2 separate regions of the Homo sapiens genome follow, and region 2 is linked to region 1. Evidence: fine-mapped expression QTL. Tissue or cell type: T cells. Region 1 holds a variant in brackets; the other region holds the start of a gene. All regions are shown on one strand. Distances are between the middles of the regions.

Region 1 (8,116 bases):
GGGGAGGGTGTCACTATTCAACCACTACAGAGAAGCAAACAATATGTCCTTGGGATTCCTCTATTTCTAATTCCCAAATAGGCTTTTCTATGCCCTCTGGGGTCTCATTCCCAAGTCTTGCTCCTCCATCAATACAATTTTATCTCATTTATCTTTTTTTTTGAGATGGAGTCTTGCTCTGTTGCCCAGGCTGGAGTGCAGTGGTGCAATCGCGGCTCACTGCAACCTCCACCTCCCAGGGTCAAGTGATTCTCCTGCCTCAGCCTCCCCAGTAGTTGGGATTACAGGTGCATACCACCACGCCTGGCTATATATATATATATATATATATATATATATATATATATATACATATATATATTTTATATATATTTATATATATTTTATATATTATATATATTATATATATTTATATATTATATATATTTATATATAATATATATATTTATATATTATGTATATTTATATATTATATATATTTATATATTATGTATATTTATATATTATATATATTTTTATATATTATATATATTTATATATAATATATAAATATATATATTTATATATATATTATATATATTTATATATTTTATATATATTTATATATTATATATATTTATATATATTTTATATATATATTTTATATATATATATATTTTTTTTAGTAGAGATGGGGTTTCACCATGTTGGACAGGCTGGTCTCGTAATCCTGACCTCAAGTGATCCGCCCCCCCTTGGCCTCTCAAAGTGCTGGGATTACAGGCGTGAGCCACCATGCCCGGCCTCCTGGAGTGCTGGGATTACAGGCGTGAGCCACCGTGCCCAGCCTTTCACTTATCTTTATTGTATAGAATCTCTAGCACTGAAATGTGTCACTAACGCTACTCCTCAAGTCCTTCTATGTTTTCCACTTCTTTGGTGGCCTAGAAAACACTACAGCTAATACCATCTTGGATGGAGGTTTTCTTTCTTTTTTAAAAAGTATTGATTGATTGATTGATTGATTGATTGAGGCAGGGTCTTGCTTTGTCATCCAGGCTGGAGTGCAGTGGTGTGATCATGGCTCACTTCAGGCTTGAACTCCCCGGCTCAGGTGATCCTCCCACCTCAGCCTCTCAAGTAGTTGGGATCACAAGTGTGCACCAACACACCCGGCTAAGTTTTGTATTTTTTTTTGTAGAGATGAGGTTTCACCATGTTGCTCAGGCTGGTCTCAAACTCCTGGGCTCGAACGATCTACCCACCTCGGCCTCCCAAAGTGCTGGGATTACAGGCATGAGCCAGTGCACCCAGCCTATAGAGGTTTTCTTATTGGATGTGGTACCCTCCCTAGGAGGCATTTTGGAAGTTTGTGGGAGGTGTTTGCAGCCTTCTTAGGATGTGGAGTAAGAGAAAGGAGGCTAAATGTTCTGTGATGTGAAAAAAGGTCCTAAACAATGAAGGATTGTCCTGTATGAGTTTTCAAAGGTGAAAAACCTATTTATAACTATCTGATCCTAAAACCTAACATTGTTATTATTTTTTGCCAATCAACACAAAGTGGGTCTGTCCAGTTTTTTTTTTTTGTTTTTTTTTTTTGAGGCAGAGTCTCCCTGTGTCGCCCAGGCTGGAGTGCAGTGGCATGATCTTGGCTCACTGCAACCTCCGCCTCCCTGGTTCAAGTGATTCTCCTGCCTCAGCCTCCTGAGTCACTGGGATTCCAGGCACCTGCCACCACGCCCAGCTAATTTTTGTATTTTTAGTAAAGACGGGGTTTCACCACGTTGGCCAGACTGGTCTTGAACTCCTGACCTCAAGTGATCCACCCGTCTTGGCCTCCCAAAGTGCTGGGATTACAGGCATGAGCCACCACGCTCAGCCACTTTGGCCAGTTTTGATAAGTTCTGAAATCTGTAGAGATGAAACTACCATGCAGATGAAGGTGCTGGGTTCTAACTGGAACCAGGAGAGGCTCACAATTTTAGTAAATCCCCTCCTGGCATTTGAGCCACAGTGCTCCTGATGCTGCTGACATTTGTCCCTGCTGCGTTGACAGCAAATTTACATGTGAGTACAGCATTCGTGTTTTATGTCTTCTAGCATAGCGGTGCCTGAGAATTTACATCTTGAAATTCATATTGCTTTATTGCCAATTGTTTTTATTTTCATACTTCCTTTCTGCTTCAGTTTATCTCTCATGCTTGTATGATCCAATATGTATCGTGTAGATTTTTTTAAATTCCGTGTATTGGCAAGTTATAGTTTCTGTGGATTTCATTTCAGGGTAGAAAGGAGGCATTCAAAATATCTGTTATAAAAAGAGCAATAATATGGTGAAACCCCATGTCTACTAAAAATACAAAAATTAGCCTGGCGTGGGTGGCGGGTGCCTGCAAACCCAGCTACTTAGGAGGCTGAGGCAGGAGAATCGCTTGAACCTGCGAGGTGGAGGTTGCAGTGAGCAGAGATTGTGCCATTGCACTCCAGCCTGGGTGAGAAGAGTGAAACTCCATCTCAGCCGGGCGCGGTGGCTCACACCTGTAATCCCAGCACTTTGGGAGGCTGAGGCAGGTGGATCACGAGGTCAGGAGATCGGGACCATCCTGGCTAACACGATGATACCCCGTCTGTACTAAAAATACGAAAAATTAGCCAGGCAGGGTGGCGGGCACCTGTAGTCACAGCTACTCGGGAGGCTGAGGCAGGAGAACGGTGTGAACCCGGGAGGCGGAGCTTGCAGTGAGCGAAGATCGTGCTACTGTACTCCAGCCTGGGTGATAGAGCGAGACTCCGTCTCAAAAAAAAAAAAAAAAAAAAAAAGAGTGAAACTCCGTCTCAAAAAAATAAAATAAAATAAAAAGAGGGCAGTGAGGCTGAGGGGACCGGGCTCTGTCTAGAAGGAGGTAGCCCAATCCACACAGATGTAAACAAATGTTCACTTTCCTGAAACATCTGGCAGATCTGATGGCGGTTCACCAATCCCCAGTTCTTTATGCACAGGCAGGAATTCTAGTCTTAGACTTCGGGAAGGCCAGTGGGCTCAGAGTGGAGGCAATGGGTGTCGCTTCTTGGTGGAAGCCCTTATTTGCTGGGGTTCGCCTTCCTCTGTCCTCTGCATGATGGCTGGGCAAGCAGGGGTTGGCGTGGGTCATGTGTGGGCCCTCCCCTGGCAGCAGCTACCCTGGGGAACCTCCTGGACCCCCAGCGGACTTGATGTACACGAGAAAGAAGCCTGAGTTTTCAAGCCCCCGAGATGCCTGTGCTTTTTGTTGCTGCAACAAACAGGCTCTGAGACAACACTGGCAAGCAGGCAGCTGCCTTGGGTTACAGGGTCTGAGCATACAATTCTTCTCATATGACACTGACGAGTGATTCCACATGGGCCACCAGGGAGGGACCATGGCCTGGGACGTGACATTGCTTTAGCCAAGGGCAGTTCCTGGAGAACAATTTGTGGAGAAACTCCTGGTCGGGGGACGAGAGCCTCAGTGCTGTGGGGGTCTCCAGAGAGCCCTCCACAGCACCCCTTGCAGTTGGTGGTCCAAGGCTCTGACCCCAGCTCATGTGCCCTACAGCACCCAGTGCCAAAGGCTTTCCCGTGGCCTCACTGGAAGGATCAATGCGAGAGGACTGAGGGCCTCCCCAGTGGCGAGCCAGGGCCCGGCAGCTGGGCCAGAGAGATCAAAGGGGGACCATGCGGTTGATACACACAGGGCCAGGCTTTTCTTGAGCTTGCTGGGAGGGAAGCGCGGCAGCAGTGGAGACTAACGCAGGGAACACCTTTGGCATGTGCCGAAGACTAAGTGTGAGGGCTGGTTTAGGTCGTGGTAGATTTCTCTGGCTGCTTCCCCTTGAAGACAGTCCCCTCAGCAAAGCGACCTGCTGTTGAGGACGTCCACCTAGACTTTGTAGGAAGGAGCAATCAGAGGGCTCTGCTCTATTCCTTTCTCTGGCCGGAACCCTCAGCCTCTCCGTGGGTGTCCTGCAGCCTGGGATACCCCACCTGGCAGTGCCTCCCTTTAGACTCGCCCCTCTGGGACCGTCGGCTGCCTGGTTTCTGGAGTGTCACTGCAGGGAATGGCAACAGTCTCCTGGTGTCTGACCACCCCTCCCAAGCTCATGAAGACTGGGGAACTCCTACCTGGGCTGGGCCAGGGGTAGGTTAGACCTCTGAAGCAGGTGCTGTTTAGTATGATTTCTGAAGCATCACCCCTGGTGAGCAGTGGAACCCCAAAGGGTTCAGGCTGGGAAGGGAACCCCACAGGGAGGTCATGCCAGGGCAGTTGGCTTCAGACCGCTGATCAGGGTCCACAGGGCACCGAGGTGGCAGGGTGAGCAGAGAGCCCTTCCGCCGAGTTAGCAGGGATCCCAGCTGTGCCAGAGGACCTTGTAGGACCTGGGACGGGCCACCTCACCTGCACCACCAGGTCCCCTCACGCTTTGGAAACTGCCTACGTGTGATCACGATCACCAAAAGCTTCCGGAAATGCGTATCTCCTGTGGGCTGGGGAAGGCGTATGTGTGCATAACATTTGCTTCGGAAATTGTACAAAGTCCCGGGCCTCTGGTTTCTTGCCCAAGGAAATGGGAACAGTCCCTTTGATCGTGAACCTGAAGGTGGGATCAGAGGTCCTCACCAATGACTGAGACATGCCTGCATGCCAAGGATGTGAGGCCTTGACACAGCT[G/A]TTTGCTGAAATCAGAGATAGTCTCTGTTTTCTTGGGGGATAGGGAGGAAACCATCATCTCTGGTACAGGAGAATCCTGTCAAATGGAAGGGACCCTTTGCAGGCTAACAATGCTTCTCAGGTTACAAAACACAGTGCACAGTTGATATTGCCTCATTTCATCCTCTGGGACACCCTGGGGGATAAACAGCTTAGATTGTTCAATTCCCAGGACAGATGAAGTTCAGAGAGGCTGAGAGACCCGCCTCTGATCACACCACTAAGTGGTCAAGTTGGAATTTCTATTCTGAGTATTAGCTTTTTTTTTTTTTTGAGACGGAGTCTTGCTCTGTTGCCCAGGCTGGAGTGCAATTCACAATCTCAGCTCACGGCAACCTCCGCCTCCCAGGTTCAAACGATTCTTCTGTCTCAGCCTCCTGAGTAGCTGGGATTACAAGCATGCGCCACCATGCCCGGCTGGTCTCAAATTCCTGAACTCAAGTCATCCACCTGCCTCGGCCTCTCAAAATGCCGGGATTACAGGCATGAGTCACCATGCCCACCCCAAGTATTAGCATTATGAAGCAAGAACTATGGCTTTTTAGCTATTCCTTCTCCTTGCTCTAGGGATTGCAACATCTACCCTTAGTTTTTCACAGTCTACTCAGAGTGTTTTGTTTTGTTTTGTTTTGTTTTTTGTTTGTTTGAGATGGAGTCTCGCTCTTGTTGCCCAGGCTGGAGTGCAGTGGCGCGATCTCGGCTCATCACAATCTCCACCTCCTGGGTTCAAGCGATCCTCCTGCCTCAGCTTCCCAAATAGCTGGGATTACAGGCATCTACCACCGTACCTGGCTAATTTTGTATTTTTAGTAGAGACGGGGTTTCTCCATGTTGGTCAGGTTGGTCTCGAACTCTCGACCCCAGGTGATCCACCTCCCAAAGTGCTGGGATTACAGGCGTGAGCCACCGCGCCCAGCCCAGAGTTAGTATTAGAAATATAAACGTCACATAAAACATAGAAGCCTTGTGACCATATTTACCCAACCCCCCATGCTTCATGCTGCTGTTGTCTTGCATATTGCACCTACATACATTACAAACCCCAGGGTGATGTGGTAATTTTGGCTTTATACAGTCCTATGTATTTTCAATAAATTAAAAAAGGAAAAGTTATGCTGGGCATGGTGCCTCACCTCTGTACTTTGGGAAGCCGAGGTGGGTGGATTGCTTGAGCTCAGCCCAAGACCAGTGTAGGCACCATGGTAAAACCTCATCTCTACCAAATATACACAAAAGTTAACTGGGGCAGGTGACATGGCTCACGCCTGTCATCCCAGCACTTTGGGAGGCTGAGGCGGGTGGATTGCTTGAGCTCAGGAGTTCAAGACCAGCCTGGGCAACATAGCAAGACCCCCATCTCAATTAAATAAATAAATACATAAATAATAATAAAATCAGCTGTGCACGGTGGCATGTGTCTGTGGCCTGAGCTACTCAGGAGGCTGAGGTGGGAGGATCACCTGAGCCCGGGAGGCAGAGGTTTCAGTGAGCCAAGATTGCACCGCTGCACTCCAGCCTGGCCTTGTGGCTGCATCTCAAAAAAAAAAAGCCAGACCCTGTCCTAAAAAAAAAAAAAAAAAAAAGTAAAAAGAAAACGTTTGGCCGGGCGTGGTGGCTCACGCCCGTAATCCCAGCATTGGGAGGCCTAGGCAGGCGGATCACCCGAAGTCTGGAGTTTGAGACCAGCCTGCCCAACATGGTGAAACCCTGTCTCTACTAAAAATACAAAAATTAGCCGGGCGTGATGGCACGCACCTGTAATCCCAGCTACTCAGGAGGCTGAGGCAGGAGAATCACTTGAACCCAGGAGGCAGAGGTTGCAGTGAGCTGAGATCGTGTCACTGTACTCCAGCCTGGGCGACAGAGTGAGACTCCATCTGAAAAAAAAAAAAAAAGAAAAGAGAATGTTTTAATATTGATTGGGGTAATAGCTGCATAACTCTGTCATTGTACTAACGGCCACTGAATTGCGCACTCTAAATGGGCAAATCGTACGGTAGGTGGGTTATATCTTAACTGATCTATTCCTTGAAAAATAGCTCGTTGTGCTCGTCCTCTTGGTTAGCCTGGAAATGTTCTGAGAGCAAGCTGCCAATCCGTGTCAGGTACCACAGTGCTGACTGCAGAGCTGAGCCCAAGACCAGCTGCTTGGTAAATAGTCCTTGGTTGACTGATTGAGCAGAGGCCTCCCCAAAAAGGTTTTAATTGGTTTCATGTTTAAATTTTGCAATGAGGAATAAAAATCTGCCTCAGATGAGAATTTGGTTCTTCTCCTGTCCCTTCCTATACACAAGACTCCATAGAAACTGAGCAAAGCACCGAAATTTGTGTTCACCGGATCCCCAGAACATAACCGGATTTGGAATCAGGGTCTTTGCATGTGCCATTAGTTAAGATGAGGTCGTGCTGGATTAGGGTGGGTCCTAAATGCGATGACAGGTATCTTTATAAGAAGGCCATGTGAGGACATGCACTGAGGCCACGTGAAGGCAGAGGCAGAGACTGGAGTGACAGACACGCCACAAGCCCAGGAAGCCAGCCGCCCCCAGAAGCTGGAAGAGGTGGAAAGGACCCTCCTCTTTGGCCTCCAGAGGGAGCAAATCCCCCCCCCCCCCGCCCACCCCGTGTGAAGGGGCCTGGCCTCTCTGACCTCCTGGCCTCTCTGACCTCCCGGCCTCTCTGACTTCCCGCCTTTCCCCCCATGTCAACACGGGGGGTCGCTCCCTCCTGGGTCCGTCACATGCGGGAGCCCTGTCCTCCCTGTTGGGTTGCCCTGCTTAACTTATTCATCGGGATCCCAAACCATCTTGTGTATTTGTTTACTTGTCATGAGCTCCAGGAGAGCAGAGGCCTCTGGGTGCCTGGACTGGTCTGGCGCCGGGCGGGCCTCCGCAGGTGCTTGCGAGATGAGAGGCTCCCCAGAGGCTGGTGGGTTGAGGCGGCTCGCTGTCCGTCTCCCGGCGTGGGTTTGTTGCCCAGTGCTGACCAGTCACTCAGACACACAAAGAGCTCTTGGCCTGGGCCAGGGGAACAGAGGGCACTGTGTGCTGTGCCGATGCCGGCGTCTCTAGCCTCTGAATGCTGTCTGTGCACTTCAACAGATGAAGTTCTTTCCAACTGAAATGAAACCGCACAGTGAAACGGGGAGTTGTGCCCAGCTCCCTGGCTGGATCTTCTCCACCCGTGGTCTGGAAGTCTTGTTTATTTTATTTTTTATTTATTGAGTTGGTGTCTCACTCTGTCGCCGAGGCTGGAGTGCAGTGGGGCGATCTTGGCTCACCGTAGCCTCCGCCTCTTGGGTTCAAACTATTCTCCTGCTTCAGCCTCCCGAGTAGCTGGGTCTACAGAGTGGCATGCCACCACGAGCGGCTAATTTTTTGTATTTTTTTTTAGTAGAGATGGGGTTTCAC
Region 2 (8,116 bases), 29 kb after region 1:
AGGATGGTCTTGATCTCCTGACCTCGTGATCCACCCGCCTCAGCCTCCCAAAGTGCTGGGATTACAGGCGTGAGCCACCGCGCCTGGCCTCTTTCCTAAGCTTTATTATTGTTTCACTTGATTTTCCCAAGAATCCTGTGTAATAGGTGAACTAGTTCATTATTCCCACTTTCCTGCTGGGAAACGTGCAAAGAGCCACGTAATCCATACCACACTTGGCAGAACCTTCCAATCACATTGATTACTTGTGGTGAGGATAATTAGAAGTTAGCATATTTTCCTAAAATTTAATCTATTATTAATAGATTTTTTTTCTCTTCTGCACTTCAACTTGAAGGCAGCAGAGGGCGCCTGATCACACAAAAGATACACTCTAAAAGTCAGCGACAGATTAAAGATAATCCATGAAAGTTTCAACAATGTGAATTTTACTAAAATAGAGCCTTGTACTTAATCTTTTGACTATTTTAGGATCTGATCTCATTTTAGATGTTCTATTCCGTCTTTCTCAGTATGAGAATTTCAGTCTCACGTAAATCACCATGACACCTATAATCCAAGAGCCTTCTAATTTAGCTTCAAGCTTCTTTCAGATAATAAAAGTATTAAACCCCGCATCCACCAGATCCTCCTAAATCTTCAATAGGTCATACGCTCTCCCTGTCTCCGGCCTGAAGTGGGCACCACTGTAATGTACTGCAGCCAGATGTGCTGTGAATGAAGAGCCTTTTGGCTTCAAGTGCATTGCCTCAGGTTTACCCAGGATTTTTAGAAAAATATTAAAGGATTACGTATGTTCTTAAAGTCATAGTACACTAGAGGGGACAGAACTATTTCCCGAGGGCAATAGTGAGGATTTAGCCTTTTGTAGTTCGTCATGGAAGATAAACATGCCTGGATGCCCAGGCTGGGTTTCTGTGAAATTCTCCAGCTCCTTTCTGCTCAGCTCCTAACCGGTTTTTTTTTTCTACCACCACATAGGTTTCCTACAAGCAGTGCTGGAGACCATGGTGGTCTTCAACCAGTGCTATCTTTTCTTCTCATTATTTCCCCAAATTTCATTTTTCTTCTTAAAGAGCTAGGTTTATGGATAAGGCTTGGAGTGGGTTGGAAAATCATTCCTCCTCAGCTGCTCAGTGACTAGTCATTGATTGGATCTAAGGTAACTTTTTTTGTTTTTGAGACAGAGTTTCGCTTTTGCTGCCCAGGCTGGAGTGCAATGGCGTGATCTGGGCTCACCGCAACCTTTCCTCCCGGTTCAAGCAATTCTCCTACCTCAGCCTCCTGAGTAGCTGGGATTAAAGGTGCACACCACCACACCTGGCTAATTTTTTTGTATTTTTGTAGAGACGGGGTTTCACCATGTTGGCCAGGCTGGTTTTGAACTCCTGACCTCGTGATCTGCCCACCTTGGCCTCCCAAAGTGCTGGGATTACAGATGTGAGCCACTACGCCTGGCCGAGTTAACTTCTTCTTTTTTTTTTTTTTTTTGAGACGGAGTCTAGCTCTGTTGCCCAGGCTGGAGTGCAGTGGTTCAGTCTCGGCTCACTGCAACCTCTGTCTCCCAGGCTCAAGCCATTCTCCTGACTCAGCCTCCCGAGTAGCTGGGATTACAGGTGCGCACCACCATGCCTGTCTAATTTTGTATTTTTAGTGGAGATGGGGTTTCACCATGTTGATCAGGCTGGTCTCAAACTCCTGACCTCAGGTGATCTGCCTGCCTCTGCCTCTCAAAGTGCTAGGATTACAGGCGTGAGCCATCACACCTGGCTGGATCTAAGATAACATCTTTTTTTTTTTTTTTTTTTGAGATGGAGTCTTGCTTTGTCGCCCAGGCTGGAGTGCAGTGGTGCAATCTCCGCTCACTGCAACCTCTGCCGCCTAGGTTCAAATGATTCTTTTGCCTCAGCCTCCTGAATAGTTGGGACTACAGGTGGGTGCCACCACACCTGGCTAATTTTTTTTTTTTTTTTTGTATTTTTAGTGGAGACAGGGTTTCACCATATTGGCCAGGCTGGTCTTGAACTCCTGACCTCGTGATCAGCCCGCTTCAGCCTCCCAAAGTGCTGGGATTACAGGAATGAACCACCACGCCTGGCCTAAGAGAACTTTTAAAGGCTGACTCACACACAAAGTAATAAACTAGATTATTTCCTGATTTATGCTTTCCCTTTGCCAAATTTTGGCTTGTCCTTGTCCTTAATTTGCCTTATTCCTTGATTACCCATCCAAAGATGACATCTTCTAAGTAGTGATAAGCATTTTTACTCTGCTCTTTCAAATCATAACATTCCATGCACTGCAGATGATTTTGCCATTTCTTACGTAATTTGAGGCAAATCCTAGAGTACAATTTCCTAGCAGGCATTTGGATATTACCTATCTTTATTTCTCAGGCTCCACAAATTGAGTACCCTTTCAGGGTGCTATCATTAGCTCTAGCCTACCTATGAAGAAACAAAAGTCCTCCATGTTAGGACATTTGAGGACATGCCCTTAGTACCTAACAGTGTCTGGCACATTTTAAATGGGAAGGTGGAAGGGCCCCCCCATTTTTTTTTTTTTTTAAGATGGAATTTTGCTCTTTTGCCCAAGCTGGAGTGAAGTGGCTTGATCTCAGCTCATTGCAACCTCTGCCCCCTGGGTTCAAGCAATTCTCCTGCCTCAGCCTCCCAAGTAGCTGGGATTACAGGTGCCCACCACCACGCCTGGCTAATTTTTGTAGTTTTAGTAGAGACGGGGGTTTCACCATGTTGGCTAGGCTGGTCTCGAACTCCTGACCTCGTGATCCACTCACCTCGGCCTCCCAAAGTGCTGGGATTACAGGCGTGAGCCACCGCGCCCGGCAGGGACTGTCTTACTCAGGATCTGCAAAATCTTATAACTGTGTGAAATTTTTTTTCTGGGAAAAAAGCACTCATTTGTTTGGTCTGAGGGGAAAAAATGGGGCTAGCCCAAGAGTCGCCCACTTAGTTCTACCCAGGGCGAAGCAATGTGCCTTAACGGGGGGCACGTGCACCCCGGAAAACTCAAGAGAAAATGAGCCGGGCGTGGTGGGCTCCTGTGGTCCCAGCTACTCCAGAGGCGGAGGTTACAGCGAGCCGAGATCGCGCTACCGCACTCCAGCCTGGGCGACAGAGCAAGACCCTGCCTCAAAAAAATAGAAATAAAAAATAAAACTCAGAGGGCACGTCTCCTAGGACACGGGGACAGGCTAGGTGGGGGCACAGGGCGTGAGAATTGGCGAGCATGGCCGGGGTATGTCAGGCCGGGGCTGCCATCTTTTTTGTTTTTTGAAACAGGATCTCGCTCTGTCGCCCAGGTTGGGGTGCAGGGGCGCATTGCTGCCTGGAACTCCTTGACTCAAGCGATCTTCCCGCCTCACCTTCCCGAGGAGCTAGGACCACTGGGCGCGAGACACCACGCCCGGTTAATTTTTTTTTTTTTCTTCTGTAGCGACTGGGGGTGGGGGGTGGTGTCTCGCTTTGTTGCCCAGGCTGATCTCGAACTCCTGGACTCAAGCGATCCGCCCGCCAAGGCCTCCCAAAGCTCCAGGGTTACAGGCATGAGCCACCGCGCCCAGCCCGGGGCCGGTCATCTTTTCCGGGGCCTTATGCAGAGTCCGAGGCCCCCGAGCCCGCTGCCGAAGACGGAGCTCCAAGACCGAACCTCGTAAAGGGCCCAGCCGCACCTCTACCCGGAAGCGGCTCGAACTCGGGGCCGGAAGTGACTCCATTTCTGTGCGCCGAGCTCCGCCCCACGAGCACCTGTTTCCGAGCGGAGAGCGCGGGCCGTTTTCTTTCCTGGTGTCCCGTCGCGGCTTGGGACCCGGCAAGATGGGCAAGAAGGGCAAGAAGGAGAAGAAGGGCCGCGGCGCGGAGAAGACGGCCGCCAAGATGGAGAAGAAGGTGTCTAAGCGCTCGCGGAAGGAGGAGGTGAGCGGGTCAGACCGGGCTTAGCGGCCCGACGTCGCGGCCGTGCAGCCTCGGCCGACTCCCTGCGCCCCCCGGGGTTACGGGTCGGCCGTGGGAGCCGCGCCGGCCCTGCGGGAGAGCTGGAGGCCGTAGGAACTGCCCCGGCGCCGCGTCCGGGCAGCCCAGACGGGGCCCGCCCCCTCCTGAGTCTCCACGTGTGTCTGTCCGCTTCTCGGAGCTGCCCCCTTTAACGTGCTTGCTTTTCTTAGTGTGGTGTCACGGGCGTTTTTCTGCGTTTCCTCCCCCTCCTCCCTTCTCCCTCCACCCTCCCTCTGAAGGGAGGCTGGGTGGTGAGAAGAGGGAGGGGTTTGGCACAGGAAGACCTGAGGTTGAGCCGGGGGCTGCCTCTGCATGATGTGTGGTCTGGGAGTAAGACTCTTAACTTTTCTGAACCTTACTTTTCTTTCAAAAGAGGGCAAATAATCATCACAGCAGCCCTGAGCAGTGAGCAGCAGATGGTTAAGTGAAGAAGGCACTGGAGCCACGGGGTATCCCGTAGCAGCTGATGGCGGCCATCACGGTTGTCTCCTTCCCTCTGGTCCTCAGCCCGGGGTCTGCAGGAGGATCCGTCCTGACCTTGGGGTTGAGTGTTCTGCGGCTGCTGCTCATGGATTCCCTAACCGGGGCCAGTTTTATGGCCTGCCGTGCGCCAGGCACAGCTCCCTGGGCTTTACTCCTCACGAGCAGGTCAGTTCCGTAGCACTGGTATTCCCATTTGACAGGAAGACCAACAGGTGAACCATGAAGTGGTATGGAACTGGGATGTGACCAGATGTCCTGAATCAGGAGCTCTTGACCACAGTCCTTTGTCCCTTTTCTTCCTAAGTCATTGATCTCTCCATGTCCTCATCTCTTAAATAATGGAGTTGGACTTTTCCCTCACACTCCTCTTAGGCTCTTTCTTTTTTTTTTTTTTTTTTTTGACAGAGTCTTGCTCTGTCACCTAGGCTGGGCTGCAGTGGCATGACCTGCTGGCTAGGGTTGTGGCACAGGAAGTCAGTTCATCTGTGTGGTATCTTCAGAATGGTGCTTGGCAGAAAGTAAGCACTCAGTAACCAGCTGTTAGCTGCTTTCTGCTTTTTTTTTTTTTTTTTTTTTTTTTTTTTGAAGGAGTTTCACTCTTGTTGCCCAGGGTGGAGTGCAATGGTGCGATCTCAGCTCACTGCACCTCCGCCTCCCAGGTTCAAGTGGTTCTCCTGCCTCAGCCTCCCAAGTAGCTGAGATTACAGGCATGCACCACCACACCCAGCTAATTTTGTATTTTTAATAGAGACCGGGTTTCACCGTTTTGGTCAGGCTGGTCTGGGACTCCTGACCTCAGGTGATGCGCTCGCCTCGGCCTCCCAAAGTGCTGGGATTACAAGCCGTAAGCCACCTTGCCCCGCCAGTTACCTGTCATTTTTACTCATCTCCATGTCTCCCTCCAGTACCCAATACTAAGGTGATTGTAACAGTAGCTTCCCTTAAGAGAGAGAGCCTGTCAGGCCTGGGGTTTGTATGTTATCTGAATGAACCCTCAAAACAAACTTTTAAAATAAGTGGGCGTCTGATTAGGCTAGACCCACAGAGGATCATCTCTTTCTTAAATTCAGCTGTGTCTGTAATACAACCTAATCACAAGAGTGGTATCCCATTCTTTCACAGTCCTGGCAATTATTGGGGGAAGGATTGGGGACAGTTTGGAATTCTGCTCCCACAGAACTCATGTATCAGGTCACCTGGTTCGCACCTTCACTTAGTCCTGGCCTCTGCCTGTCTTTCCAGCTGTCTCCCTGGGCTCACTCCAGCCACAGTGTCTTTTAGTGTCTCAAACATGGCAAGTTGTGTCTGTGGTCTTACCTATACCCCAACCATACTCCGTCTGAGTCGTCTTTTCAGCATTCAGCTTATTGTCACTTTGGAGAGGCTGTCACTGGCTAGGCCACTGGCGTCACCCAGACCCTACCACCTTGCTCTCCTTCAGTCACCCAATGATGATGAGGTTCAGCCAAGGTCAAAGACCGCTCTAAGTAGCAGCAGCAAAGCTTTCGCGGTACATAGACGTTAGTATTTGAACTGTTTGTTTAACCTCGTTGAGCAAAAAAAGCAAGTTGAAAGAATATACAGTATGATACCATTTAATGACATTTTATTTTTTATTTTTTTTGAGATGGAGTCCTGCTCTGTCACCCAGAGCAAGTGTCGCAGTGGCATGATCTCAGCTCATTGCAACCTCTGCCTCCCAGGCTCAAGCAATTCTCCTGCCTCAGCCTCCCGAGTAGTTTGGGACTACAGGTGTGCGCCACTGTGGCCGGCTAATTTTTGTATTTTTTAGTAGAGACGGGGTTTCACCGTGTTGGTCAGGCTGGTCTCGAACTCCTGACCTCAAATTATCCACCTGCCTCGGCCTCCCAAAGTTCGGGGATTACAGGCGTGAGCCACTGTGCCCAGTCCATTTAATGACATTTAAAAATGTAAAACAATACTATATGTTGCTTAGGGATACACATGTGTAATAAAAGATTGAAGAAAAGCGTGAGACTAATAAGCATCGAGTTCCAGATAGTGGTTACTTGAGGGAATGTGTGGGTGGGTACATGTGGGTGACACTTTATTCCTTACCCTGGGAACCGTATACAGGAATGTCTTGGATAAAGTTCTGTTAACTTGTGTGTTTTAAATATTGCATCGTTTAGAATACTAAGCAGTGTACCCTGCTGACATTCACCCTGAGATGAGAGGTAGACTGAAGGAAGCACGAGGTGGGGCGTGGCAGGCTGAGGGAACCTGGCGTTTTCATTGAAGGAACGGAGAGGACGCTGGTGTATCTTGGAGAGTGAGGCCAGGTGGGAGGTGAGGTTGGAGAGGTGGGTGTGGGGGAGGGAAGATGGTCTGCAGGTGTGTGTAGTTGCAAGCAGGACACTGAAGGCTAGAAGGAACTTGAAATGCCAGGCTCGGGTGTGCATGGGAGTGTCTCGTAAATGTTGGGAAATGGGCACTGGGACTGAGGCGGGAACACTGGGTTCCAGTGCTGCCCTCTGTGCTGGCACATCAGTACCTTGAGTCACTCTCGATGGTAGTAAAAGTTGAGACCTTCTTACTTGGATAGACTGCAGCTGGTATTTGCTGAGCTCTTGCTGTGCAGGCAGTGTTTTAACTAGACACAAGTCTTGCTCTGGTGGAGCTCATATTTTATTATTTTGTTGGGGTGGAGGAAACAAATAAGCAAGAGAAATATATCAGACACTGCTCAGCAGACAGGAAGGCAGGCAGGCGTGACGGCCCAGGCCTGGGCTCTGAGAGGTGCTGAGGGTGTCTGCAGTGAAGTCACGATGGGCTTGTCTAAGTGGAAGTTCTTGTCAGACACTGCTCTGCAGACAGGAAGGCTGGCAGGTGCGACGGCTCGAGTCTGGGTTATGAGAGGTGCTGAGAGTGTCTGCAGTGAAGTCACAACGGGCTTGTCTAAGTGGAAGGTCTTGCAGAGGGAGCGTTAAGGGTGTGGAGATAATACTTGGTGCACACATCTACCCTTTAAGCAGACTGCCTTTGAGGTCAAGCTCTGGTTACTTTCGAATGTGTCAAACTCTGCATTTCAAACAGGCACAGTATGTTGCAATTCACAGATGTGACTGAGCCCAGTCGAATCACACTGATTGGAGGAAAGCTGAGCGGGCTGTGGCTCCGCGGCGGGTCCTGGGAATAAGTCTCACGTGTGCCTGCTTGCTTGCCCTAGGAAGACCTGGAAGCGCTCATAGCCCATTTCCAGACACTCGATGCCAAGAGGACTCAGACTGTGGAACTTCCGTGCCCCCCACCCTCACCAAGGTGAGCAAGTAGCATTTTTCATATTGTATGTTTCCTTTTCTTCTATACATTGAAAAACTGCTTTAAATAGCACCAGGTTTCGTAAATGACCAGGCACTTGGGACATTTTCATTATTAAAACCTGTTCTTGGTCACTTTCTGCTGAAGAACTGGAATGAGGCTGTAAGCTTTACTGTCATGGAACCTGGGAGCAGGGCCTACAGCACAGCTGCTGCCTCTGGGCTCCGGTGCCAACTTTGAAAGCTCCTCCACTGGTCGTGACGTGGGGATGAAAGTTTTGCCCCAGTGAGCTTTTCTTTGGTTCTTAAGGTATTTTAAAAGTGCGTACTGTAGGCAGA

What was found. PIP is the estimated chance that this variant, and not a neighbour inherited with it, causes the effect.
Region 2: KLHDC4 starts here. The variant in region 1 is fine-mapped to the expression of KLHDC4 in T cells (TOPMed, PIP 0.97).

Annotation. Positions count from the first base shown.
Region 1 is chr16:87,791,063-87,799,178 of GRCh38, reverse strand. No RefSeq gene overlaps it. Among named protein-coding and RNA genes, the nearest start is that of KLHDC4, 29 kb to the right of the region's middle. RefSeq lists an enhancer at 8,030-8,116. The variant G/A (reference allele first, on the strand shown) is at 4,668.
Region 2 is chr16:87,761,611-87,769,726 of GRCh38, reverse strand. It overlaps KLHDC4 (kelch domain containing 4), which reads left to right and starts at 3,741. Exons shown (of 12, transcript NM_017566.4): 1 at 3,741-3,935; 2 at 7,687-7,778. The coding sequence starts at 3,837. LOC105371399 (a long non-coding RNA gene) reads right to left here and starts at 3,686. Exons shown (of 3, transcript XR_933871.3): 1 at 3,386-3,686. It overlaps LOC102724467 (a long non-coding RNA gene), which reads left to right. Exons shown (of 4, transcript NR_120309.1): 4 at 3,303-3,396. RefSeq lists enhancers at 3,646-3,705, 3,786-3,845, 3,829-4,453, 7,286-7,355.